Linked DNA regions of Homo sapiens. The protein of the gene in region 1 interacts with the protein of each later gene in a pairwise test. Each region holds a gene or a part of one and is shown on either strand. Other genes may lie near its edges.

Region 1 (7,024 bases):
CATGGGGCTGTGGGGACACGGGCACTCAGCAGTGGGGCCGGGCCATGTCCAGGGCCCTCCCACATCCTCCAGGAAGGTGCTTTCAGGGACCTGCTCTTTGGATGTTCAAAAGGACATGTGAGGGTCTCTGGAGAGTGAGGAGAGGACCCAGAGTGCCATGGAGGGACCAGCCGGGGCGACTTACAGACTAGCCCAGCAGATCACACGGCCCGCGTCTCGGCTTCGATCTTCTGCTCCCCGTGCAGGTTCTCTGGGCCCAGCGGCTGCGCCACACTCTGGCGGATGGCAATCTCGGGGCCACCTCCATACAGGCTGTTCAGGTAGGTCCAGGTCTCCTCCGAAATCTGCCCGTAGTCAGCTCCTGCAGGGCACGAGAGGCACCCCTAGGCTCACCTTTGCCTCCTCAAGGAAGCCACCGGCCTGGGCAGTGGGGGCTCCGCAGGGCCAGGCCCCGAAGCGGGAAGACGGCAACCAGGGCTTCTATGCAAAGCTGTCAGATGGAAATCAGGATTTCCCAGAGGAATGTCCATCCCGCTAAGGGCCCCGGATAACACATCTCTGGCTGTGTCCCTTGTTCCTGGGGGTGGGGCTGACATAAACAGCAGGGTGGGCAAGGCCAGCAGCAGGCAGAGGGGTGGGACCTGGAGGACACAAGCAGAGACCAAGCCCCTTGGGCCATCTCTCAGCCGCCTGGGTCTGGACTCAGGTGGACGTCTCAGCCTGACTCTAAGACAGGTGGTAAGGGGGCTCCTGGAAGGACGGGACTGGGCAGCAGCCTGGCAGCCAGGAAGGGCAGAGAGGAGCCTGGCTGACCCCAGGGGGAACTCACCCTGCTTCAGCTGGACATGGCCGCTTCCTTTGACCTGTGCAATCCTGCTGTTGTCAATGGGCCCGGGGGGCTCTGCAACAGACACAGCGGGCTCGGGTTCAGCCCCTGCCATGCCCTCCACCCTCCACAGCAGCAGAGCCATCCCAAGTGGGGCCGCCCCAGGCCTGGGGGTCAGCGTGAAGTCTCTAATGGATGAGGCGCCTGAGCCACCCAATGCTCCTCTGTGGCAGTCTGAGGACCCAGCAGAGGGAATTTCCAGGACACACGAGATGGTCTCAGACTCTGTGCTGGCCGCAGGAGCTGCGGTGGATGGCCCATGCCCTTATCTCTGCTGGCAGCTGCCGCTCACCACGCCCCTTCCCCTCTGCCCAGCTATCTCATTTAGCCTCGGCAACCACAGGACAAGACAGAGGTTTACAGAGACAGAGCCGAGGCCTGGGAAGGTGAAGTAACCACTCAGGTCATAGCTGGTAGAAGGCAAGGCCAGCGTCCAGGCCAGGGCGAGGGCTCCGGAGCTACATTCTCAACCACAGCCATGCTGAAGGCCTCAGCCACCACCAGAGAGGCCTCACGGTGGCCCTGGCACCTTCCCCGACTAGCGGGATGGCAATGAGGCCTCCCTTCCCAAGCACAGGTGGGTGCTCATGCTCCACACCAAGGGTCCCGTGAGCAGAACCGTGGGCTCTACCCACCCTGCCGGGCCCCGGAGCCACAGGTTAGATTATGCCCCGAGGGCGCCCCAGCCGAAATTTTTAATGCAGGTTTAATAGTTTAGAGCCTGTGGGCTTCCATGGCTTGGTTCTGCTGTTCTTCACTGGGGACTTGGGGGACCCTGGGAGCTTGTGATGGGGCCTGTCTCCACCTCTGTAAATCCAAGGAGTCAGATGACAAATCTGTCATTTCGGGCGACACACTCCCCTGAGGAAAGGGCCTTGCAGGAGGGCAGAGCAGCTTGCTGGGCATGGCAGGGAGTGGAGAAGGGCAGGGGGCGCAGAGCAGGAGCAGCTTCCTGCCTCTGGGTGGGGACAGTGATCCCCACTGGGGACTGGCAAAGCCCCATGCTCTCTGTTCACCCTGGATGGGTGGCACCTGGGGGCAGGCATGGGGCCTGCAGGAGCCCCTGTGTGCCAGCCCTCCCCTGCCAGCATCCCATCTCCCAGGAGGCCCCCAGGGCAGGTAAGTGCCAGGTCCCCCCTCAGCTCACCGTTGTCCTTCCCCTTGACGAACGCCTCCCACTCCCGGAACCACTGCATGCTGATGCAGTAGATGACGCCCGGCGACTCCTCGGCCTGGAAGGCCTTGTTCAACTGGCAGGCGGGCAGGGACGGGAGGAGACAGAGGGCAGGTCAGTCTCTATTTACCTTCAGCAAGGATTTCCCAAATGCCCCCGCCCCAGTCCCTCACCCAAGAGTCTTACAAAAACACCAGATACTCAAGGTGAAAAATCAAACCCCCAGACAAGCTCAAACAAAATGAACACACCCATCACTCAGAGAGGACGGTGGTAACATTTTGTGGGTCTCTTCAATAACTGTTTGACCCAACTGAGACCACAAGGGAGATTCTACTTTTTGAGAAGGAATCTCACTCTGTCACCCAGGCTGGAGTGCAGTGGCGCGATCTCGGCTTACTGCAACCTCTGCCTCCCAGGTTCAAGCGATTCTCCCACCTCAGCCTCTTGAGTAGCTGGGATTACAGGTGTGTGCCACCACCTGGCTACTTTTTGTGTTTTTAGTAGAGACGGGGTTTCGCCATGTTGGCCAGGCTGGTCTTGAACTCCTGACCTCAGGTGATCCGCCCACCTCGACCTCTCAAAAGTGCTGGGATAACAGGCATGAACCACTGCGCCCGGCCTGGGAGATGCTAATTTTCTCCGGTTGAATAGAATGTGCCTATCTGCTCAGAGAGGCAGCTCTCCTTCTGACAGGAGCATTTTCTTTTTCGAGATGGGGGGTGGTCTCACTCTGTGCCCAGGCGGGAGTGCAGCGGCGCAATCATGGCTCACTGCAGCCTTGACCTCCTGGGCTCAAGTGATCCTCCCACCTCAGCCTCCTGAGTAGGTTGGACCACAGGTGCATACCACTAGGCCCAGCCCTGACAGTCTCTTTTTCGTTTGTGTTCTGAGACAGGGTCTCACTCTATTGCCCAGGCTGCGGTGCAGTGGCATGATCACGGCTCACTGCAGCCTCAACCTCCCAGGCTTAGGTGATCCTCCCAACTCACTCAGCCCTCCAGGTAGCGGGGACTACAGGTACACATCACCATGCCTGGCTAATTTTTGTATTGTTTGTAGAGATGGGGTTTCGCCATGTTGGCCAAGTTGGTCTTGAACTCCTGGGCTCAAGTGATCCACCTGCCTCGGCCTCCCAAAGTGCTGGGATCACAGGCGTGAGCCACCATGCCCAGGCAGCAGAATCATTTCCTAATGGCCACAAAGCACGGGCGTCCCTCAGTGTCTCTCACCAGGCCCTCCCTGTGAGTGGAACACGTCCTAACCCTGTTAGAAGTAGCGTGGCAGGGAGGGAGTGCGCCAGGAGCCTCGCCTGCACTCAGCTCCCTCACAGAAGTCCCTCTTCTAAACACAGTCACACTTGAGTCCTGGTTTGCACCTTGGTTTTCACTTCCTGCTTTATCTTGGGCAGTCTGTAGAGCCCAGTGGTTCTCACCCAGGGCAGGGAGGGTACTCTGCACCCCAGGGGACCCTGGGCAATCTCTGGAGGTCATTTTGGTTGTCACTAGCACTAGTGGGTAGAGGCCAAGAATGCTGCTAAACATCCTACAATGCACAGGACGGCCCCACAATAAAGAATAATTCAGCCCAAAATAACACAGCCAAGGCTGAGAATGGGATCCATCTACTGGTTCTTTAAGCTCAACAGCACCCGGGCGATGAGGCTTCACTTACTCAAGCCAACCCTCCCACCAGGAAAAGCCCTCCTAGACACCTGGCCATCTAGTTCCCCGCAGAAGACTCCTTTCTTTTCTTTTTCTTTTTTTTTTTTTTTTGAGATGGAGTCTTACTCGGTTGCCCAGGCTGGAGCGCAGTGGCACAATCTCAGCTCACTGAAACCTCCGCCTCCCAGGTTCAAGCGATTATCCTGCCTCAGCCTCCCAAGTAGCTGGGATTACAGGCACCTGCCACCAAGCCCAGCTAATTTTTGTATTTTTAGTAGAGACGGGGTTTTGCCATGTTGGCCAGGCTGGTTTCAAACTCCTGACCTCAAGTGATCTGTTCGTCTCAGCCTCCCAAAGTGCTGGGATTACAGGTGTGAGCCACCATGCCCAGCCTCAAAAGACTGCTTTCAAACTTGCTCAGGGACTGCACAGGATTCTTCTGTCCCCAAGTCCCCAGCTGCCCCAGGCAGAGGCTGGCAGAGCCGCCCCCGCGCCGCCTCGCCGCACGCACCTTGATGAAGGTGTCGATCTCGATCCTCCTGCGCTTGGCCAGTGCCTCGATCTCCACCTGGCAGATGGAGCACACGTACAGGTGGTTCACGGCGGGGCCACCCCCGAATCTGTGCCCAGGGTGGGAGAGAGAGACACGGCCTGAGCGGGGTACCAGGGAGGGGAGAGTGATCACTGCCTTCCACTTCCCCCTCAAGCCATCAGTGCCCCCTCAGCGCTGTCGCAGGCCTGCATGCACCTCTGTGTGAGCACCACAGAGCCTGCAACGGAGCAGCGCGCCCACAGCCCAAGGGAGGTCCTGCTTCAAGGCTGAAGAGCAGATGGCCAACACACTCAGCTGTGCTTCAGCAGATGGCCAACACACTCAGCTGTGCTTCAGCCAGTTTCCTGTCCCTTGCCGCTGGAAGGATCCAAGCGGATTCCCACAAACGACATGTGTCATTCTCCATGAGACAAGTGAAGGCGGCTCTGTGCTGCCCACGTGGAGGCCAGAGTGTGGTGTGGGGTCCTGGTGGCATTCCTTCCCTGCCCTCCCCTCTTTTCCTGCCCAGCTGGGCCCTGGACAGGACGGAGACAAGTTGGCCTCCCAGGCTCTCACCTGTTGTACAGGTGCTCCCAGACGTTCTGGGGCAGGATGACCACCAGGTCGTCGATGTAGTGGTATTTGTGGGGCGGGATGCCTGGGAAGAAGGTACAGGGAGCGAAGCTGTGGCTCGGCCCAGCTGCCCACCCTGCTCTCCCACCACAGGGGGCGCCTCACCTCCGTGGGAGCAGAGGAAGGTCTGGTTGGTGATGGGGCCTGGCTCCGCGAAGGTGTTGAACTTGTTGAGCCACTCGCGGGACACGTAGAACCGCAGCAGGCTGGGCTCCCGCATGGCGGCCAGGGACACCACCTGCTGTCGCTCCCGCATGGCCTCCTCGCTGCTCTTCCTGTGGGGTGAGGAGGGGGCGAGAAGCTGTGCCTGACGGCTGCCACCTTCAGACACATGCAGAGCCCCCATCCCAGTGCACCTCGGGCTACCGGCCCTGTCCACCACCTCCTGGGTCCTTCACGGGTCCTGGACATGTGAGCAGCCCCCTGTGCCGCCAGCCAGGGCCCTGGAGAAGGCTCCAAGCTGCCTTCCTGGGTTCCCCACAGCAGCCAGAGGGCTGTTTCTTAACAATCCAAGTCCTTACTTCCCTGGCTTAATCCAGGCGCTGTCCCCTACACACACCCAGAAGGCCCATGGGTCCCAGGGGACGGGGATGGTGAGGTTCCTCCACCAGGCCTGGCCCAGCGCCCACCTGTAGAAGAGTACGTAGCCCTCGGCGTTCTGCACCACCGTCTCGTGGACTTCTGTGACGTACTGGTCATCAAACTCGTACCACTGCCCATTGATCACGTTCTGGCAGTAGGCGATGTAGTGCCCACCTGCGGCGGCAGAGCAGACGGGTCACAGGGATCCTAGCGGATGGGGACGGCAGGGGAGGGGACATGACTCACTGCCTGCCGTGCCGTGGTGGCAGATGACCGAGAGGAGGTCGTAGGTGGTGATCTGGGATGTGCACTCCTTGGCAAGGAAGGGGCGCAGGTCGAGCCCCTCGAGGGGGAAGGAGACGTGGCTGTTGATCTTGAATGAGTACATCACCTCGTGCCGAAAGCGCTTTAGGTGAATGCACAGGATCTGCGGGGACAGAGAGAGCGCCGGTCATCTAGGAAGAAATGATGCGGGCCCTCGCAGCCTTGCCCACGGGCCCAGGACAGCTGATGGGATCATGCAAGCTGACTCCATTGGAACAAATCCAAGAGTTCCACGTGGGGGCCAGACTGGGCTCGCTCTAAGTCACACAGATCACTCCCAGCTCCACTGCTGAGAACTGGACCCCAAGAGCTGCAATGAGCCATCAAGTTTACCAGTTCTGTCGGCACTACCTTTGAGAAGCCACAAAGCCTCCCCGAGCCACCACAGCCCCAACCTGGGCCCCCTCTGCCAGGGCCCTCTCCTCTTTGCTCCAGCCACACGTGCCTTCCTTGGTGCGGACAAGCCTGCTCCTGCACTGGGGTTTTGTCTGTTCCTTCTGTGCCTTCCATCCACGACGCTGACACCAGCCTACACCCTCCAGGCCCCACTCAGACGTTACTCCTCAGAAAGACCCCTGGCAACAGCCCCAGCTGGACCAGCTCTCCTCCCGCCACTCTGCAGCTGGCAGGAGCCATAGCTGTCTCACTGGGGGTGGTAACCCAGTGTCCCACACACCTGCCTCCCATTGGGCCCTCATACAACATGTTAGACAACATGTGCTGAGGCTACCGAGAGAGGGCACCAAGTCACAGTTGGAAAAATGTGCCCCCTGCCAACCCTTCCCAGAGGTTTCTCAGCCAAAGCTATGGAGTCTCCACGGCCCCTGCAGCACAGAAGTGCCCGAGCAGTGGAGCAGGCTCAGCCCCTGCCTGGTGTGTGCTGGTGTGCATCCCGAGATAGCTGAGGAGGAGGCTGCCGAGGCCACTGGCTCACCTCGGGCAACCGCAGGACTTTGCAGTACTTCACTCCGTTCCGCAGCCTGGGGAGGAAGCACGAGCCAGCATCAGTGTCCGGCATCAGGGCCAGGGGCCAGGGAAGCAGCCCTCCACCCGGCTCCCTTCTGGGAAGGCAGGATTATAGGGGGCTCTCTGCAGGAACCCAAGGGGAATATGTAGGGCACAGAAACGGCAGTTAGGGAGAAGGCGGGGGAAGGCTCACTTACTTCTTACACCGCTCACAGCTGTACATGTTGTCACCTAGGGCAGTAAAACAAAGGGTCAGAGGTTAG
Region 2 (7,024 bases), on another chromosome or scaffold:
TTTTTACAGGTGAGAAAGGACTAATACTTACCTCTCTTCTGGTTAATTGGACAGCTCTCTATGGAGCACCTACTCTATCTAAGGCATTCTGCAAGGCTGGCCCCACCCTAGGGGCCAGAGAGGGAACAACCTAGCCCCTATACTGTAAGGGGTCAAAAGCAAGGAGGGATTTGATCTGATTCGGGTTAGAAAAGCAGAGGAAAAAAGAACAGATTTGTATCAAGGGGTGTCAGTGCTCTCTCTTCTGGATTTCAGCCACTGTCTGGTTTTCTCTTCGCTGTGGATTTTCTTGAGGGCAGAGTCTGCGTCTCCAACACTTACTAATTAAGCAAATATTTCTTGAACATTCACTGTGTGTGAGGAAGTTTGAAGCCAGGTGGCCAGCTGGGGTCCTGTACTCATGGAGCTTACATTTTAGTGGAGACACATGGGGGAGGCAACCAAGTAAAGTGAATATGGGTGAGTGGTTTCAAGTGCTGGAAAAGAAACAAAGAGCTGGGAAAAGGGAGCTTGCAGAAAGCGGGCGCTGGCTGAGAGGGCACATCAGGGAATGCCTGGAGGAAGTGACATTTAAACTGAAATACAGCAGATAAAGAGCCAGCAAACCAAGAGGGTGGAGCCGTGAGGTTACTGGTGGAGTGGCTGGTGCCTTGGGGCTGAATGGAGCTTGGCCTAGAAAAGGTAGGGGGGGTGGGTGCTGGGCCAGAGGAGCCGAGGGAGCCAGGGAGGAGCTGAGGCTGGGGCAGGGGCTAGAGCCAGCTCAACTGGGGCATTGTAAGCCATGGCCTGGGTTCTGATGTTTGCTATTTTAAGCCAGCACCTATTGGAGGGTCTTGGGGAGTGACACCCTGATCTTTTGGTTCAGGCCTTGGAAACTCCCCCATTAACACACCAGAGGGGCTTATGGTGGGGACCCAGGGCCCAGGAGGCTGTCCCCTCCACGCCTCTCATCACCTTGTCTAATCCAAGTGTGGGCCTCTCAAAGGACAGGAGGTTTTGCTCAAGCATTGATTTACTCCAGCACCCCAAGAGAGAGAAAAAGCATCACTTGTACGTTTTCAAAGTCATGTACTGTGTGTGTAAAAATTGTAAAATAAAATACAGGGCATCAGAGAGATTTCTCTATGGCTGTGTGTGGTTTTGGCATATGCTTCAAGGTCTTTTCTGTAATGTGGAATATTTAGGGGGAAAAATATAAGAAATGCTGACATAATGGAAAGCATTTGGGTACTAGGATCAGCCAAACCCAAGTTCAAATATAACTTCTGCCACTAACTACTTGTGTAAACATAAGTAAATTAGCCTCTCCAAGTTTCAATGTCTTTTATAAAATGGGGGGAAAATAGCAGGGGCAGGAAGCAAGGTGGCATGGATTAAGCATAGTTTTCAGAGGCACACAGACATGGGTTTGGATGCCATCTCCATTAATCCCTGATTGTGTGACTCTGGGTAAATAACTTCACTTCTTGGAGTATCTGTTTTTTCCTCTGAAAAAAAAAATGGGACAATAAGGGCTCAGGTAAGCTTCATAGGGCTCTAGTAAGCTTTGTATAAAACAATGCAGCAGGCTGGATGCGGTGGCTCACGCCTGTAATCTCAGCACTTTGGGAGGCTGAAACGGGTAGATCGCTGGACTGGAGTTTGAGACCAGCGGATGACATGGCAAGACCCCATCTCTACAAAAAATACAAAAATTAGCTGGGCATGGTGGCACGCTCCTATAGTCCCAGCTTCTCGGGAGGCTGAGGAGGGAGAAACACTTGAGTCCGAGAGGTGGAGGTTGCAGTGAGCCGAGATCACGCCACTGCACTCCAGCCTGGGCGACAAAGTGAGATAAAAAAAGCAATGTAGATACAGGGCTTCACACAGTGCCTGGAACATTGTAGGTGCGTAATAAGGTCAGTTTGCTTCTGCCTTGGTTTCCCCATCTGTAACTGAAGAGGTTGGATTAGATGGTTCCTTGAGGCCCTCCCCAAGTTCTTGATTCTAAATGTATTTAAAAGGTGCTAGCTGAGAGTGGTGGCACACTCCTGTAGGTCCACCTACTTGGGACAGAAGGCTGAGGCAGGAGGATCACTTGAGCCCAAGAGTTCAAGGCTGTAGTAAGCTCTTGCACCACGCACTCCAGCCTGGGCAACAGAGCAAGACCCCCATCCCTAAAAAGAAAAAAAAAAATTAAAGAAAGGCCCTGGAAGAGTTAATCTGCCTGGATTCCTTGGGGCTTTAGTGCCCCTCTAAGCACCCTGCCCCCCAGGCTTTCTCGACACCCTTGTGTAGAGAGTGGGGTGAGGGTGGGGCAGGGCACAAGCTGGGAGCAGGGCTATTTGTAGCCTTGTTTTTCTTGGAGGTGTTGTGGAGGCAAGGAGACTCTCCTCTCCCTCCCTTCCTCTAGGTTTGGAACTAGAATCTAGTCTCCCCGCCTTTATTTCCAAAACAGTTCCTGGCTCTAGCTCCCAAGACTCCTCTGGGACTCCAGGAGCTTCAGGCTCCAGTTCAGAAAACGCTTCCTCCCTGTGTGTCTCAGACACACACCCTTCCACCCAGGCACTGGGGCCTGCCCCAAACCAGCTTTCGCAGACAGGCATTCCCTCTTTGTCCAGAGAAGCTGGTGCAAGGCCATTGTGGGCAAGAGAGCAAATCCGCCTTCCTCTTGTGGAGCCTGTGTGGCTGGGCATGGAGGTCAGAAGAGAGAGGGGAGTTGTCAGCTGTGACAGATGGTTCCCTTTCTCTCCCTCTCTCTCGTCCGGCTGGCTCTCTTTTCTGCCTGTCTCTCTCCCTCTCTCTCGTCCGGCTGGCTCTCTTTTCTGCCAGTCTCTCTCCCTCTCTCTCGTCCGGCTGGCTCTCTTTTCTGCCAGTCTCTCTCCCTCTCTCTCGTCCGGCTGGCTCTCTTTTCTGCCTGTCTTCAGCTAGCTGTTTGCAGGATTCTCATCTGCCTCGAAGACTCGCTTCCACTTACTCCCTCCTTCTCTCCCTACTGCAAAATGGTTGTAGACTGCAACTTTCCAAATCATTTCGAACCTGCTTTAAAAATTCAGTTTCTATTCTGGGGGTCCCAGATGTGCTGCAGCTCACAAATAAGGCCAACCAGTTTTCCAAGACTCTCCTAACGTAGACAGGGAAAGAAATGGTGATTCACAGGGCCTGGGGAGTGTCTAGGCCATAGTTTTCCAAAAGCACCTGTCATTCATGTAACATTTCCATGATGTTTGCCGTACCTGCCTACCATCTCTACTATTATTTATCCAACCTAGGTTGAGCAAGTGTGACATCAGAAATACAATCAAACTGCATCCTTATTTTTGCCTACCCCTCCCTACTTATAATTTAGTCAGTGAGGGGAGCTCCTCCTCCCCCTGGTTGAAGTCTCCACTCCCAGGCAACCCACACCTCAATTTCCATTCGAAGGTGAGATTTCTTCCTGCTCCCCCAGTGAAGGTGTGAAACGGGCAAGGCCATCTGCTCCCCTTGTCAGCTCACCTGTTTCCAAGTTGAAGGGAGGGGAGGTACAGGGACAGGAGGAGGATTTCTAGATGTTTCACGACTGGGGCGGGCCTAGACTGCTCTGTGTCTCTGTGCCTGGCAGACATTTAAAGCTGTCTTTTCCATGGGGGCCTTTTGCAGGCTCTTTGGGAGTAACCATTTTGGGCCCTGTGATTGTCACACTGCTGGGATGTGGGCAATGAACATTTTCCTTTCTCTGCAAGTCTAGGCCTTCCCCTCAGCATCTGTTTCCAGGGTTAAAGATCCTGGAGGGGGCAGGAGGAGAGGTATGGTCAGCCTGTTTCTGAGGGGAACAGCCAGAGGCAGCCGAAAAGCCTGGACAGGCTCCAAGAGCCAGGGGCCAAGCAGAGTCTGAAGGGAAAGGGGATTGAAAGCCCAGAAGGAAAAATGAGTTCCAAAGGTCAATGCCTGAGTAATGCCCCTGCTGTGCAACCAGGACCACAGCTGCCGAGGATCCCCCTAATACTTAAACGCTCTGATTGGATAGCCACAGGCTGAGTGAGGACTACAAAGCCCACAGTGCTTTGTATCTGGAAAGAGAACAGATTGAAGTCTGAAAGGCTCAGCATTGGAGCTAGAAGAGACCCTAGAGACCATCTACTCTAGTGGTTCCCAAAACAAGGTCTCTGGACCACCATCAGCAGCATCCCTTGGAAACTTATTAGAAATGCAAATGGTCCAGCTTCACCCCAGAACTAATGAATCAGAAACTTTGGGGATAAGGCCCAACAACCTGTGTGCTAACAAGCCCTCGAGGTGAGTGTGATGCGCACTGAAGTTTAGGAACCACTGCTCTAGCCCAGCCCCTGTTGTTCAGGTGAGGAAACTGAGGCCCAGAGAGGGAAAAGGGTTTGCCTAAGGTCACAAAGCAAGTTGCCATTTTATAGTTAATCGCCATGGCAGGAAGTCATGCCTGGGATGTTCCCCCTCCTGGTTTCATTCTTGAGAGAGAGGCTGTTAATTACAAAGCAAAGGAACTGATTTGTTGAGAGATCTTGGGCAAGTTGCTTATTTCTGCTCTGGGTCTCAGTTTCTGCGTATGCATAGTGAGGGCAGGGAGTAGATACCTCCAGGTGCATAGCACACTGATCTCCAGTGGGATCGTGCTATTGCTGCCATCAGCCTTAAGGACACGGTCTAGCCTGGGACAGGAGGGCACAGGCTCTGGATCTGGACAGCCTGGTTCAAACCTTAGCCCTGCCATCTACTCATCGCATGATGTAGACCAGGAGTGTCCAATCTTTTGGCTTCCCTGTGCCACATTGGAAGAAGAATTGTCTTGGGCCACACATAAAATACACTAACGATAGGTGATGAGCTTAAAAAAAAATCGCAAGAAATATCTCATGATGTTTTAAGAAAGTTTACAAAACTTGTGTTGGGCTGCATTCAAAGCCATCCTGGGGTGCATGCGGCCCACAGGCCCCGGGTTGGAAAAGCGTGATGTAGACACATTGCTCAACTTCTCTGAGCCTCCGCTTCTTCTCCTGTATCTATTCTATAAGGGTATTGTGAAGATCAAGTAATGAATGGAAAGCTCTTAGCACATGCCTGGCGCACAGGAAGCGCTTGGGGGAGGAGCTGCTACCACGGCCTGCCAGGGTCACTCAGGTGATGGTTGACCTCCACTCAGTAACTGAATCCTCAGCCCTCCTCATGTGCAACCCTGAGTCTCCCATGAGAAGCAGACTAGTTGCAAAGTCACCTACAATTCAAACATTACCCTTGTAGAACTGTAACTTTCTATTCATGCCACAGATTTGGATGAAACCATGGATCATTTCTCTCCATTCACAGCTCCTCCCAGTCATCAGTCTCTGGGTCATAAGTTCTGCATCCATTTCAGCCACTCTGGAAGATGATGGTCTGATGATGAATGCCTCACCCCCGAGACCCCTTCGAAGTGTATTCTGGGTAATGACTCCACTCACCCAAATATGTCCTCAAGATATGACGACTCTGTCCACATCACATCTACTTGTATGTGATGCAGGAAAGAGCAAGAGACAGAAATCCAACTGAGTGTATCCCAGCTGCCTCCTCCTGTGCATCCCCTCTGACCAGCCCCAGGTCAGCTTGGTGGCCACACTCACCTGTCACAGCTCTCTTGCCTCCCACAGGTAACCACCATGATCCCCTGGGTGCTCCTGGCCTGTGCCCTCCCCTGTGCTGCTGACCCACTGCTTGGCGCCTTTGCTCGCAGGGACTTCCGGAAAGGCTCCCCTCAACTGGTCTGCAGCCTGCCTGGCCCCCAGGGCCCACCCGGCCCCCCAGGAGCCCCAGGGCCCTCAGGAATGATGGGACGAATGGGCTTTCCTGGCAAAGACGGCCAAGATGGACACGACGGCGACCGGGGGGACAGCGGAGAGGAAGGTAAGAGGCCTATACGTGCCACTCTCGTTCCCACCTGGCTGACAGCATCCGGCATGTGGGGGGCATCATGAAGTTAATAAAACTAGTATTAATCCTCTTCATTATAAATCAAATTACTATTTACTTATAAATCTATATATATATATATATATATATATATATATATATACTTTTTTTTTTTTTCCCCTTGAGACAGAGGCTTGCTCTGTCGCCCAGGCTGGTGTGCAGTGACATGATCTCAGCTCACTGCAACCTCTGCCTCCTGGGATCAAGCAATTCTCCTGCCTCAGCCTCCTGAGTAGCTGGAATTACAGATGCATGCCACCATTCCTGGCTAATTTTTGTATTTTTTAGTAGAGAGGGGGTTTCACCATGTTGGCCAGGCTGGTCTCAAACTCCTGACCTCAAGTGATCCATCTACCTCGCCCTTCCAAAGTGCTGGGATTACAGGCATGGGCCACTGTGCCCGGCCTCAGAGCAGTTTATTCTGAAAGGAACATGGGTATTGAATTTTGTGTTCCTGCCCCCGGTGCACCTTTGGGTTGCTAAGTGACTTTGGAAAAGTCTCCCAAAATATTACTGAGAACTCTTGATAATTGCAAGTGACAGAAACTCAATTTATAGTCCCAAATGGAATGTATTAGCCCATAAAACTGAGACATCAGGCCAGGCGCGGTGGCTCACACCTGTAATCTCAGCACTTGGGAGGCCGAGGTGGACAGATCACTTGAGGCCAGGAGTTCAAGACTAGCCAGGCCAACATGGCAAAACCCCATCTCTACTAAAAATACAAAAAATTAGCCAGGTCTGGTGGTGTATGCCTGTAATCCCAGCTACTCTGGAGGCTGAGGTAGGAGAATTGCTTGAACCCAGGAGGCAGAGGTTGGAGTGAGTTGAGATCGTGCCACTGCACTCCAGCCTGGGAAACAGAGCAGGACAGTGTCTCAAAAAAAAAAAAAAAAAAAAAAAAAAAAAAAAAGCCTGAGAAGTCCAAGAGCCAAGCTCCAGGAATAGCTGAGTCCAGGAGCTCAAATATCATTGTCACGGCTCTGCTTCTCTCTGTGTTTGTTGTATCCTCACAAAGGCTAGAAGTTCTGAAATAGCACTGCTGGGCTCCGGCCCACATCTTCCTGGCTTCATCCACAGAGCA
Region 3 (7,024 bases), on another chromosome or scaffold:
GGCAAATACCTCAAAAATCACTTAAAAGAGGCATTTTAAAAATTCAAAATATAATTTGGTCAACACCTAATTACCAGAGACCTTTTCATTTCTGCTTATCCTGAAAGAGGAACACAATAACTGAGCCCACATATTTAATCTGCATGTTTACTTTTCAATAGAGCAAATGGCCACTAGATTAAGGCAGTAGTCATGTCAGATTGTAACCAAATTGTGCCACACCATTCTATTTATCCATATTATTGTATGTATTAAGTCACATACACACACAGAAAAATTTATCTTTCAAGTCTCTCTCACCATAGGAAAAGATTCAAATTTGCAATCCAGACAGGGAAATGGACAAGGTAAGTGACTACAACCCACTCGGTACATTCACAGACTATTTTTTGTTTGTTTTTGAATAAACAAATACATCCCTCAGTCCCCCAAATTGTATTAGACTTACACTAATGAGTAAGCAACATAATAATTATTTACTAAAGAATACAATCAGATGGATTTGACTAAAAACAAAAGTGAGCAAAATACCTAGGAATAACTAAACCTGGAATAAACTGTCCATGTAAGTGAATTTATCCCCAAACTGCCGGTACATAGTGGCCAAAAAGCAATTTATATGTATTTTTAAATTATGTATACACATCTCATTCTAAAAAAGAACCTGCAGTGGTTTACGTCACAAAAAATCTGGTAGACTTAAATGATTCTTCTCCAGGATGCAGTCTTGACCTAAAAGTGAGTCTTTCTTTCTTCTTGGATAAACAAAATGTTACTTTAAAAAAAAAAAAAAAAAAGGCATACCAAGTTTTTTAAAACTTAACCACTGAGTCTTATGAAGTGTAATAGCCATATCACACATACCTCAAAGGTCAAAAATAAAAGCAAAATTAATCAAAGGAACTGAGAGCTCAACAGCTCCCAATTTTTTTTACATTCTCCTACTTACCAATTTATCATTTTCATTGGGCATTTCAAATACGCATCTCAATTTGGAATCCATTAATTCATCAGGTTTTGCCTCTTTCCACTAAAAATAAACAAAACCAAACATGAGACATAGGAGGTATGATCATGGTAAGTAAGTTTCACCTCACGGGACAGCTAAAAGATGAGTGAAGCTGCCTGGCTTGGCTGAAACACACTGGTGCACTCTTTATTGATCACCCTGCCATTGTTATCGGCTAATGTCACAGAACCTTTATATAATCCTAGTTACTATCACCATCCATTAAAATCACGATGATATTACTAGCAACCATAGGACTTTCTTCTTAGCATTTCTTTCTTTTTTTCCAGTTGGTCTCATTCTGTTTCCCAGGCTGGAGTGCAGTCGCCCCTCCTGGGCTCAAGCAATCAATCCTCCCATGCCTCCTGGGTAGCTGGGACTACAGGCGTCCAACACTATACCCAGCTCATTTTTGTTGTGGTGGTTTTTTTTGTTTTTTGTTTGTTTGTTTGTTTGTTTTTGTAGAGACAGGGTCTTGTCATGTCGCCTGAGCTGGTCTCGAACTCCTGGGCTTGAGATACTCCCATCTTGGCCTCCCAAAGGGCTGGGATTACAGGTGTGAGCCACTGCACCAGGCCAGTAGCAGCATTTCTAAATTGTTTCTAAAAAAAAATACTATTTAAAAATTCTTTCATTCTTTAAGTTAGGATTATCTATAATGAAGAAATTGGCAGTTTTTTAAAAACCTAAATTTAACTTTTAGTTTTTAGAAATTAAGTTTTTCTACTGACTGCTAAACAACACCCACAGTTTAAACTCCACTTCCCAAAACAAATTCTTCTTCTATACTTACCACAGCTTCCATATCTGAAGTGTTTGGTGGAGCAAAAATTGTCTGTACCATAAACTTGTGTTTACTCTTTTCATTCGGATCATAGTCAAAGGGCTGTAGCATTACTAAATAAGAAAAAAAGGATATATTATATTGTCTCCTGCATGTCTGAAAGACATACATTGAAACAGTTACAGATTAAATTATACTAAGTCTGGGATTTGCCTTAAACCGTATCTGGCAATAGTATCATTCCTACTACTTCACAAATATGCAAATTTAAAAAAAACCAAGAAGGGTTCAAGAAACCAAACACTGGAATGTTTAAGAATCAACTTAATGGATCCCAAGTATTTTTAAATTGTCTGTCTTTCTAATTTACTAAGTTTTGCACAACCAACAAAATAAACAATTACAATTAAAAATTAAATATGAATCTATGATTTTGCCCTTTCTAAACTCAGCTTGTGAAAATTTTCAAAACTTTGCCAACGTTAACTATAATGCCTATAAGCTCAGATTAAATATAAGTTATTAAAACTATGAATTTAGGCTTCATTTTAGTGTTTTCTGATTTAAAATTATACAACTGAGATATTTAAAGGAGAAATACTCAGTAACTTAAAACCTCACTACCATCTGTTTTTTGTTTTTTAAAACAGGGTCTCACTCTGTGGCTGAGGCTGCGCTGCAGTGCAGTGGCGCAATCTCAGCTCACTGTAGCCTCAACCTCCCTAGGCTCAGGCAATCCTCCCACTTCAGGCTCCTAAATAGCTAAGACTATAGCCACATGCCACCATGCCCAGCTAATTTTTGTATTTTTTTGTAGAGAAAGGGTTTTCGTCATTTTGCCCAGGCTGGTATAGAATTCCTGGGCTCAAGAGATCCGCCCTCCTCAGCCTCCCGAAGTGCTAGGATTACAGGCGTAAGCCACAGCACCCAGCCCATATATTGTTTTAATATAATTAATTTTTCAAAATTGTATTTTAAATAAACATCTATTTCAGAGTTTATGAATTTATTTAAATCTTCTAAGAAAACAAAAGTACACAAGGAAACCATATAGCCTCTTGAGTTCTAAAATTTATTCTACAGTCTCAATAACATTCAAAATTTTTAAGTTTTTTTTTTTTTTTTTTTGAGACGGAGTCTTGCTCTGTCGCCCAGGCTGGAGTGCAGCGGTACAATCTCGGCTCACTGCAAGCTCTGCCTCCCAGGTTCACGCCATTCTCCTGCCTCAGCCTCCCGAGTAGCTGGGACTACAGGCGCCTGCCACCATGCCCGGCTAATTTTTTTGTATTTTTAGTAGAGACGGGGTTTCACCGTGTTATCCAGGATGGTCTCGATCTCCTGACCTCAAGATCCGCCCGTCTCAGCCTCCCAAAGTGCTGGGATTACAGGCGTGAGCAATTTTTAAGCATTTATAATTTCTCGTCTTTTAAGTTTTCTAAGGTTCCATGTGGTTGTAAGTCATGCTAAATTTATGTAACATGAGTCCAATATAACAGACTATACAAAGAATCAATCAACAGTTACACAAAATATGTACATGGCATTATAGAAATTATTTCCCTAACTTTAGATTATTTCTAAGATATATCTCTACACTTTCAAAAAGATAAACACGGGTAAATAAATGTAAGAAATAATTATGTAATAAAGTCTTATTCATAAGGTGTGTCTGAGAAGTCCATTAACTGCTATCAAGGTTAAGACAACTTTTTCAAGGGGCCAAATACACAGCAGCAGGAAATGTACTGGATAAAATGCCTCAGAATACAGCTTAAGCTAAATAAAATTCCATTAGCAACCTTCACTGAGTTAATGATTATAAGCTAATCACTATGAACCAAAAATTTGTGAATAAAACGAAAACTTACAACATGGTTAAGTTTATAGGAGTTATACTCTAATTTAGGTTGCAGACCACATAACAAGACAAAGACGATCTTGAAAACATATATAAAAATGTGCACAAATTGAAGCAAATTCAAAAAACAAAGCGTCAAAAGGACACAGGGAAAAAGAGAAATGAGCATGTAGTACAGAGAATTAACCAGAGAAGGTTGTTGGAAGAAGCATAGCTTTGAGTGACTGTAAATGGAAATACACTACACTAAAAACTGGAAAAGCCAAATTCTAATTAAGTAGAACAATCCAAGGGCATGTTTGCGTAATCAGTAACCAGTTTGTCTGAAGGTTTTAATAAGTCAGGTTTCTGTGGGAGAAAGTGTTTTGATACGTTGTTTTCTCAAGAAATATTAATACACAGAAACCAGCAATCTAGGCCCCTCAAAGAAAAAGTCATTCTGCATAGTTGTATGGATTCCTAGGGATATAACTGTTTGTACCAATAAACTATTTTTAGCCATGTGGATTGAAATAATTATATCTTCTGGCCAGGCGCAGTGGCTCACGCCTGTAATCCCAGCATTTGGGGAGGCTAAGGTAGATGGATCACTTGAGGTCAGGAGTTCGAGACCAGCCTGGCCAACATGGTGAAACCCTGCCTCTACTAAAAATACAAAAATGAGCCAGGCATGTTGGCACACGCCCGTAATCCTAGCTACTCAAGTGGCTGAGGCAGGAAAATCACTTGAATCCAGGAGGCGGAAGTTGCAGTCACCTGAGATCACACCACTGCTCTCCTACCTGGGCAACAAAGCAAGACACTGTCTCAAAAAAGAAAGAATTCTCTCTTCTTCCAATTGTGCTAAAGGCTTAAAGATGTAGTAGAAAGCAGCAACATGCAGAGTGCATGCATTCCTTCATCTTTATTTCCCATCTCTCTTTCCCAGGAACTGATGAATTAGACTTAGCAAAGAAACATGAAAAGCACTCCTCCCAGGCCTCCTTACCGCAAGACTCACTAAAACATCTTTTTCCTAGCTCTTGAGGTTTTTGGCTATACCTGCTGAGGGAAGATTTAGTGTCACCAAGAACTCTATGGTCTGTCCTTCATGGCCTTTGTAGTCAGGCTCCACCTCTAAATACTCTCTCAATGAGCCTACCCTGGGTTCTCTCTCTCTGTACCCAATTCTGCTGTGGACTTGAAAACTGATACAGAATTATTATAATATCTTAGGATTACTTATCAAGATCACCCAGGCTTTTTTTTTTTTTAAGGTACACTTTTTTTGTTTGTTTGTTTTGAGACGGAGTCTTACTCGTGCAGTCTCCGCTCACTGCAACCTCCACTTCCTGGTTTTAAGCAATTCTCTGCCTCAGCCTCCCAAGTAGCTGGGACTACAGGCGCCCACCACCACACCCGACTAATTTTTTGTATTTTTAGTAGAGATGGGGTTTCACCATCTTGGCCAGGCTGGTCTTGAACTCCTGACGTCGTGATCCACCCGCCTCGGCCTCCCAAAGTGCTGGGATTACAGGCATAAGCCACCGCGCCCGGCCTAAATGTAACATTTCTAAGTCATGCTCCTAGAGATTCCAATCTGGGAGAGATGAATCCATGTGTGTTCCTGCTCCCTGTGTTATTACAGCATATAGTGGGAGTTGAGAAGTACTGCTGTAAAGAAAGAGTAAATGCAGCCTGAGAGGTTCTCCCCTAAGTAAAATACATGGAACCATAAAAGTTCTCATATTTACTTCCTATTTCCTATTTCTCAGCTATATTAGTGAAGTCAGAGGGACTGAGAAAGAAAGAAACAGTTTATAGGGGGCATTAGATATGGTACCAGTATCAACTCCACAGCAGGAGTAAGTAATCCATATATGGCAAGCATACTTCTTTGACAAGTAAACACATAAGAGAGTAGTAAAATAAAAATAAAGTTTTCACACACAGGACACTGTTGACATTTACAATGAAAGGCATAAAGACTCATCTGATTTGACACAGTAGGCAAAAAAGTGGCATTGCACCTTTTTAAGCAAAAGAATTATGACACTTCTATAGCTGCATGCAATGTGTAATATGATCATGATCTGAAGGAGAATGACCCATCAGAAAAATGATATAATTTTTCAAAGATAAAATAACAAAGGCAGAGAAGGTAGTGGTTAGCTGTAGAAATAAAGACTAAAGTTTGTAATTGACAATAATTTCTTATAAACTGACCACACTCCCTACACAGAAGATGAGTGAGAAATTTTCTGAAACAGCTTGCAGAGTACTGTAACAAGACATCTTTAAAGGCAAAACCAGAATAATATAAGAATTATTTCCCTCCCTCCAGATGAAACCTTATTAAACAAAAACATAATCATAAAAGGTCAAAATTCAAATGTACATAAATTCAGAACATGATTTGCTACCTGAAACAGTCACAGTTGACCCTGGGTCAATAATTCCACTGTTGGGCCTCACACAGTACCGGCGAGGTGCTGTAGTCTTCACTTTGAAACACACTTTTCTATCCGATGGATTTCGCAATTTAAGATTTGTAGTGACTACATCTGTGAAGGGGCCTGTAAAGTTTAAAAATTAAAGAGAAAACAAAATTTAATTGGATTCTCAACAACGAAGGATTCAAAACTGAAAATATATAACCTCAATTTTAATTAAGTGCTGACATTTGTAGGCATAAATATCCCAAATGGCTACTAACACTGCCTTTCTCGAGGTGGCAGACTTAAAAACAAGTCATATTTTCTTCTTCATTCCCTGTATTTCACAAAATTTCTACCATAAACATGTATGATTTCTATCAAAAAAGTACTATGAAACTTTGGATCTATGAACTTTACAACTGTATTTTTACAGTATGTTGTTAATACGTTGCTGAAAATAACAGAATTTCCCAGTTGTCTGCAAACCAGTGTCAATCTTCAAGTTCATTTTACTAGGCCAACTGCAAAAATCTCTACATCTGAAGACCCTACACCCTATGACATCAGTGCTTTTGCTTCACCTCAATTTTGTTTGTTCATTCATTCAATCCATTCATTCATTCACATATTTGTTAAGTGTTTATTATGCCATATGCTCTAGATACAAAGTTTTTAAGCTTTGGTTCTGCACCCAAACAACATAAAATTACAAAACAAAGAACCCAAAAGGCTGATCCATTTTGCTGAAGAAAAGCCTGAAGAAAAATTATGCAGATTAATTTAGACAACAAAATAAATACCTGTTAATTTGGAGGAAGAACATAAAAACATGTTCCAGTTGGGAACAATAACCACAGTTCTAAGTATTCCAAAAGTAATTTTAAATCGTTCTAAAAACAATTCGTTTAAAGTTATGTATTTTTTAAAAAAGCTAGAAGGCTGGAATCAAAGACAAC
Region 4 (6,897 bases), on another chromosome or scaffold:
TAGAAATGCAAATTCCTGGACACTGCTCTCAGATGATCATTCTGTAAGTTTGAAACCCAGGAAATGATTTTTTACTCACCCCCAATCAGCTAGTAGATGAGTGATAAACTCCTAATAAATGCTCATGGCCAGAAATAAATAGCATCATCAGAAACAAGAATTTCATGATTCCATTTCTACTTACTGTTGTTTAGATAAAATTTGTGAAAATTGATGTCTAATAATAAGGATTCCTCGCATTAACATTAAAGTCATTGCTCTGTGTCTTTTTGATACACACATGATCACCTGAAGATTTGGAAAATTCAAAGCAAGTATGGGTTTGGAACTAAAAATGGGGCAGTCTTGTGGGGTGTGGCAAAGAAGAGCATAAATAGCTTTGAAGTCAGGCAGAAGTCAATTCAAATTCTGCTCATACCAGTCTGTGTGACTTGGGCAAGTTACTGAACGTCTCTCTGAGTCTCCATTCTTTCACCTATAAAACCGGAATATTACTACATCTCTGAAGGAGGAGTTCAGATTAAGTGAGTTTATGCATCCAGTAAGTGACTGCTTCATAAATAATTCCCCTGGACACGTTGGCTCACGTCTGTACTCCCAGCTACTCAGGAGGTTGAGGTGGGAGGATCGCTTGAGCCTGGGAATTCGAGGCTACAGTGAGCCGTGATGGTGCTACTGCACTCCAGCCTGGGCGACAGAGCGAGAACCTGTCTCAAAAATAAGTAAGTTTAAAAAACAAACAAACAGGCTGGGCTTTGTGGCTCATGTCTGTAATCCCAGCACTTTGGGAGGCCAAGGCGGGCGGATCACGAGGTCAAGAGATCGAGACCATCCTGGCCAACATGGTGAAACCCTGTCTCCAATAAAAACACAAAAATTAGCTGGGCGTGGTGGCGCGCGCCTGTAGTCCCAGCTACTCAGGTGGCTGAGGCAGGAGAATCTCTTGAACTCGGGAGGCGAAGGTTGTAGTGAGCGTAGATCGCGCCATTGCACTCCAGCCTGGCGACAGAGTGAGACTCCGTCTCAGACAAACAACAAACAAACAAACAAATAGTTCCCCCTTACAACAAAATATGCCACAAGATGAGGGAGGGCAGAAATTTCCGAGGCCAAACTTAAAATTTGCATTTGGGATTTGGCCATACTTTGGCCGTTCTCTGTGGCAGTGAATGCGGCTGCAGACGTCCCAGCGCCGCCATTGCCCACAGGGCGTGTCATTTCTAAGGGCAGCTGTTTGTTCCCTGACTGCCCCCGCCCCGCCCCCCAGCTCCCCCATCTACCTAAAAGAAAATGTAATGGGTTGGGCCATTTTTATTTTTTAAAAAGCTTTCTTCCAGGTCTTTGACCGGGCGCCGCAGGTGTCCGCATGGGTTTCCCAGGCCGCTGCGGCCTTCACCGACAGAAGGAGGCCGTACAGAGGGGTGCGGCCGGGCCGGGGACCCAGAGCCATCTGGGTCCCATTTGGGCCAAGGCTGCGGTTTGGGACTTCCGCCGCCTGCAGGGCTCCTAAAGGGCTGAGGAAGGCCTAGAATCCTCCTGCGCACCCGATCTCGCGTAGTCCGAGGGTCCGACCCCTCCAACCCCTCCAGGGTAGGGGGCAAGGAAGGGCCGGTGTGCCAGGGAATTCGGTCGCACCCCTCCCTGCCCAAGGAGGCCCAGGAGCTCCCTCGGGCCGAGCTCTGCAGGGAAGTGAATGCCCCATCTGCTGCAGGGACCCCCATCAGGAGGACCCGAATCCCAGGGACCCGCACCCGCGACGCGGTAGTGGGAGTCAAGACCCGGCGGCTGCACCCCCGACGGCTTGGCCGCATGGGAGCAAAGCCCTCGGTGCCTCAAGGCGCCAGTCTGGGCTTTTGAGCGTTGCGGGAGGTAACAGGAGAGTTCGCCGGATTTTAACACAATCCCACTCTACATCTTCAGAACAGGGTGGCCGCAAAGTCCCTTACCCCTCTTACCCGTCTCTGCTCCCACCCGCCTCACCAACCCGCCGGAGCAGAGCTCGTAATCAAAGGCACTTTCCCCGGGCGCCCAGTCGGCGTCGGACTTCGAGGGCAGCGTGCGCAGCGAAGCCGGGCTGAGGGGCGATCAGCCCGCTGGGGACCCTGGAAACCCGCCGCCCTGCGGAGAGTAGCTCGGGACAGTTCCACCGCTCCGCCCAGTCAACTAAAGTGGAAGCCTGATGTCGGCCTGCAGGGCCAGAGATGCCCTCCGGAGCTGGGCCAAACCTGGGTGCCCCTAAGTGGCTGGAGGGGTGGCTGGGTGGACAGCGCGAAAGACCCCGCTCAGGGGGCCCCCTCCTGGCTTGGGACGGTAGAGGGGTCCCGCGGGGTGGCGGCGGAGGCAGGGGAGGTGGCGGCGGGGCGGGAGGTGCGGACGGTGCGCGCGTCGCTGCGAGCTGGAGCCCCTAGGGGCCCGCCACACACACTCGCACCCCTCCCCCTCCCGGCCTTCCTCCCACCCGCTCGCCGCGACCCCCTCCCCAACCCCCTCCCCTCCCCCCGCCTCCGCCCCATTCTTGGAATTGTGTGGAAAAATTCTCAGCCAAACCTCCCACCTCTCCTCTCCCCCCACCCACCCCCTTTAAAAAACCCCTTTCCTCCCCGGCCCCTGCACTCTTTGTGAATGAGGGCAGGGAACACGGCCCTTCCCCCGCCCAGGAGCCACGCCAGACCGCCGCACTCAGAGGACTGTTTGTTAATAGTCCAATTAGATAATTGCCATCTTTCACTCCTTTTGCTCCGCATTTCCCATAAAGGAATGAATGGGGAGAGCGGCGTGGAGAGGGCTTCTGCCCCGGCAAGGTGACGAGAAGGGCTGGAGCATGCTCCTTGCACAAGGCCATGCGCTTGAATTGAATCATTGTAGCCTAATCAATGCTCTTATTGGATTACTGGCTGTTGCTTTTCTCAAAGATATTGTAGCAGAGACAATGAAATAGCTAGGGGAAAACTTTTTTTTTTTTTTTTTGAAGCAGATCTCACAGTTGAGATTTCTCGGCCGTCTCTCCCTCTCCCCCTCTCTCTCCTGCTGGACTCTGAGTACAAAGCTGCCCTTTGAATGGGCTGCCTCAGGGCTGCTGGAGGTGCAGGCATGAAAAAATCCAACTGGAACTAAATGAAGAGAGGTGGCAGTTTAAGATGGCTGTCTGCGTCGAGGTGTGTTAAGAAGGAGTTGTTTAGGGGAAAATCTTGGCTTTTTTAGAGTGCAAGGGAGATACTTTTTGGGAAAACTTTCTCCCCCCGCTCTGTCCCCCATCCCCCACTCCCAGACAACTGCTTTCTTCTGCCGCAGGGTGCGCAGGGTTTTTTTTTTCTCCCCCCACACCCCCCCGCCGCCCAACCCTCATTCAGCTCTATCTGGCGAGTGTGGAGAAAACCCCTCTAGCCAGTATGTGAGCAGGAGGGTCAAAGGCAAAAGGAAAGTTAATAATGCCTGCTAATGGTACTAACAATTCAGGATGAATCTTGTCAAAAGTTTTTCTGGAAGTGTGGGTCTTTGATTGTGTGTTTCCTGAAAGCAAGACCAATCATTTCCGTTTATTCACTGGCTAAACCCCTACTTGATTGGGGACAAGGACAGAAACCATCCATTACGATCTGATATATTATCCAAACAATTTAGTGTATTCATGAGGTAACCGAAACGTGGGGGCTGCGAAATTACCCGTAATCAATTGCAACAGCGAGTGTGCGTCCCCCCGGGTGTCGGACAACTACAACTCGCCGTCTCAGAAACAGGCGGGAGCCGCAGCATTTCGGAGTTGCGCTGTTCGCTACCTGATCGCCAGGCTGGGGACACTGGACGTGCTCAGAGGACGCGGGTGCTGACGAGGCGGCCTCGCCGCAGCTCCACCAGGATCCTGGACCAGACTGGCCGCCTCTCGGCGAGCGCGCCACTCTCCCGTCGCCGCTGACCCGCGCGCGGCCGCCGAAGCCTCCCCGCGGGGACATTCATTCTTGCCCCTTGCCTGTCGCCGGGCCGGGCGTACGGGCCGCGTTGTCGGGGGTTTTGTCCCCTTTTTCCTCTTTTTTTTTTCCTTCTCCGCCCCCCCCCCTTTTTTTTTTTTTTGCTTTTTTTTTCCTTTCTGTTTTTGTTGTTGTTCTTGCCTATGTTCGGGAAACCAGACAAAATGGACGTTCGATGCCACTCGGACGCCGAGGCTGCCCGGGTCTCGAAGAACGCGCACAAGGAGAGTCGGGAGAGCAAGGGCGCGGAGGGGAACCTCCCAGCCGCCTTCCTCAAGGAGCCGCAGGGCGCCTTCTCAGCGTCGGGCGCTGCTGAGGATTGTAACAAAAGTAAATCCAATTCCGCAGCGGACCCGGATTACTGCCGCCGGATCCTGGTCCGAGGTAGGGATGGGCAGGGCTGCCAGGCGCGTTCTTTGGGGTCGACTCCGGGGCCGGAGCTGCGCGCTGCCGCCGACACAGGCCGGTGGGAAGGAGTGCCGGCTGGGACTTGGGAGAAAGTTGTTGGCCCTCCCCGCCCCGAGTCCGGCTGGGGACAAGCGCCTGGGACTCTCCGGTGCGCTCTCCAGGGGCCTCGGCCCTCCACGCCCGGAGGGGCCCCGCTGACCGGGCTGCGGGGGGAGATGAGGGGCTGCGCGGGTGCGGCCGGGCATCGGGCTGCGGCCTCCGACCCGGGAAAGGAGCAGAAAACTCCGGGAGGAGGTGTGCGCGCTCCAAGGGCCGGACGACCTGCCGGGAGCCGGCCAGGGGACTCCCGCGCTCTGGAGGGCTGAGCGCACCCAAGGGGGAACGCGAGCCCCGGAGAACAGCTGCCGATCGCGGGCTACGGCCCTGCCAGTTAGTGCACTGGGCCGAGGACCCCACGGCCGCGATCGGTGCCCGACCGCTGCCGCCGGGAGAGGCAGCTGGGCTTGGTTACGGAGCCGCGGTTGCCGCTTTGGTGCTCTGCTCTGCCGCTCTCGGATGGCGCGGCGTGCACTTAGCCCCGGCGGCGGAGGCTGCGAGGCCGGGCCCCGGCCCGGCGCCGCCCCAGCCAGCAGCAGATCTCCGGGCCCGGCCGGCCCCGACTCAGTCCCTCCTCCTTCCGCCGCGCGGACTCCGGAGGGAAGGAGACTCGAGGGTGGGGGTGGGGACGTCTGGATCACGGTCTGGTCGGCAAGCCCAGAGCTGGGGCCCGCAGGACCCGGGCGGGGCGACAAGGGTACCCTCAGGCTACAGGGGACCCGGAAGGCTCAGCCGAGGCCCCCCCAGGCCGGAAGAAACGTCCGCCTATGTGGAATTGATTGGATTTTTTTCTCTCCCCTGTCTGGAGGACTCTACAAAAAGACAAAGTGTGGTCCCTCCTTCGGTCAGCGGTATGGAGTTAGGCCCCTTGCCCTCCACACAGTGTCTTTGCTACCTGGTTGTGGTCGCGCTCCGCACCCCGCCCCCCATCCCCAAAACTGCACGCTTCTGGGGACTGTGTCCCCAAATCCAGCTCGGGCCAAGGAGGTGGAGGGGGACGGGAGGGTTCTGGCGGCTGACATCTCCCCTTCCCCAGATGCCAAGGGGTCCATCCGAGAGATCATCCTGCCCAAGGGCCTGGACTTGGACCGGCCTAAGAGGACGCGCACGTCCTTCACCGCGGAGCAGCTCTATCGGCTGGAGATGGAGTTCCAGCGCTGCCAGTACGTGGTGGGCCGCGAGAGGACCGAGCTCGCCCGGCAGCTTAACCTCTCCGAGACCCAGGTACCCGGCGACCAGGCCGCACACAGTTCTGCACCAGCCTTCCTCCCCACCACCCCTACCTAGCCTGCTCTTCACCTCCTAACCTGCTCTGGACAGAACTACCCTTGGGAGGTGGAGGAGATGGGAAGGATGGGTAAGACAGGCCTAAGGATTCCTTCCCCTAGATAATACATCCTTTCCCCCCACCATTCCTGCCATCCCCAAATCCTCCAGGGCCCATGTTTTATCCACCTTGGCCTAGGCCCAGAAGGCCCCAAATCCTGTCCTTTTGGAATTTTTATTGTCCCCCGGTTTTGAGCATTTCCTTCGAGCTTCTGCTCTACAAAGAACTGACTTTTGCCCTTGTTTGGGGTACCCCATTTTGGCTAGATTTCTAGGCCCCACCCCTTGTGGGCCCACCCAGCTGTACTCAGCGTCCAGGCCCATTCTACAGGAGTGAGGCTAGATCTAACACCCCCTGCCCCAGCACCATGGGTGATTCCCAGGAATTAGGTGTACGCCCTCCTGGAGATCTGCCTGTGCAGATCAGGCTGCCCTGACCCTTAAAGGAAGGCTTTCCCCATTCTGAGCTGGCCCCAGCCCTGAGCACCTAGGAGACCCTGTCTTCTGGGCCAGTGATGTGTGAGGTGTGTGATGGGAAGGAGATCTAGGACCCAGAAGCCAGTACTGCTGATTGTGCTTTAGATCTTTCCCTTTACATTAAATCCATATGATGCCCCTTGGAGCTGGCCATGTGGGCTCTGGGCCCAGGAGAGGACCCAAGAACTTGCCAAGTGGCATGTCACCAGCTTGGCCTAGCTACGGCAGCCTTCTTTCTGAAGACTGATCCTTTTCCCCATGCCCAACCCTGAAGCAGGTGGAGAGCATTTTAGGTCCGGGATCTGGGCTGAAAGCTGAGGACTGACAGAACAGATAGGGGTGTTCTTTTTGAGTTTGAGTTGGTATGGTAGCTTTTTCTATTCTCTCTGCTACTACTCCTCTTAGTTTATAAAATCTAGATAGGATAGTCTTTGCCTATTGCTGCAAAACTCTTCTGGGCCACTGCTAGGCCTGCAGAGGGGCAGAAGAATGAGAGGGGAGGTTAGTGGGGAATATTCAATCCACCTCAGCCTCCTGACTTTCTCCCATGATTCCAAGTTCATGACTCAGACCAGTGGAGAGATAAACTAAGAGTATCACCAGACCCTTCAATGCAGCTATCTGG

Evidence for each region.
Region 2: the proteins of USP20 (region 1) and C1QTNF2 interact in binary tests that used the Homo sapiens proteins (3 or more experiments, as listed by UniProt).
Region 3: the proteins of USP20 (region 1) and VAPA interact in binary tests that used the Homo sapiens proteins (3 or more experiments, as listed by UniProt).
Region 4: the proteins of USP20 (region 1) and VAX1 interact in binary tests that used the Homo sapiens proteins (3 or more experiments, as listed by UniProt).

The regions. Positions count from the first base shown.
Region 1 is NC_000009.12:129,873,450-129,880,473, reverse strand, and holds part of USP20 (ubiquitin carboxyl-terminal hydrolase 20), read right to left. Parts: intron 6,993-7,024; coding exon 6,959-6,992; intron 6,776-6,958; coding exon 6,730-6,775; intron 5,899-6,729; coding exon 5,718-5,898; intron 5,646-5,717; coding exon 5,519-5,645; intron 5,165-5,518; coding exon 4,995-5,164; intron 4,915-4,994; coding exon 4,833-4,914; intron 4,345-4,832; coding exon 4,236-4,344; intron 2,137-4,235; coding exon 2,034-2,136; intron 902-2,033; coding exon 830-901; intron 362-829; coding exon 201-361; 3' UTR 185-200; exon of another isoform or gene 8-184; 3' UTR 1-7.
Region 2 is NC_000005.10:160,353,618-160,360,641, reverse strand, and holds part of C1QTNF2 (complement C1q tumor necrosis factor-related protein 2 isoform 1 precursor), read left to right. Parts: intron 1-5,298; exon of another isoform or gene 5,299-5,370; coding exon of another isoform or gene 5,371-5,415; intron 5,416-5,621; coding exon of another isoform or gene 5,622-5,630; coding exon 5,631-5,874; intron 5,875-7,024. UniProt on the Homo sapiens protein: Involved in the regulation of lipid metabolism in adipose tissue and liver.
Region 3 is NC_000018.10:9,930,992-9,938,015, reverse strand, and holds part of VAPA (vesicle-associated membrane protein-associated protein A), read right to left. Parts: intron 6,207-7,024; coding exon 6,054-6,206; intron 1,907-6,053; coding exon 1,803-1,906; intron 1,031-1,802; coding exon 950-1,030; intron 1-949. UniProt on the Homo sapiens protein: Endoplasmic reticulum (ER)-anchored protein that mediates the formation of contact sites between the ER and endosomes via interaction with FFAT motif-containing proteins such as STARD3 or WDR44.
Region 4 is NC_000010.11:117,135,268-117,142,164, reverse strand, and holds the start of VAX1 (ventral anterior homeobox 1), read left to right. Parts: upstream 1-3,894; 5' UTR 3,895-4,108; coding exon 4,109-4,349; intron 4,350-5,505; coding exon 5,506-5,693; intron 5,694-6,897. UniProt on the Homo sapiens protein: Transcription factor that may function in dorsoventral specification of the forebrain. Required for axon guidance and major tract formation in the developing forebrain.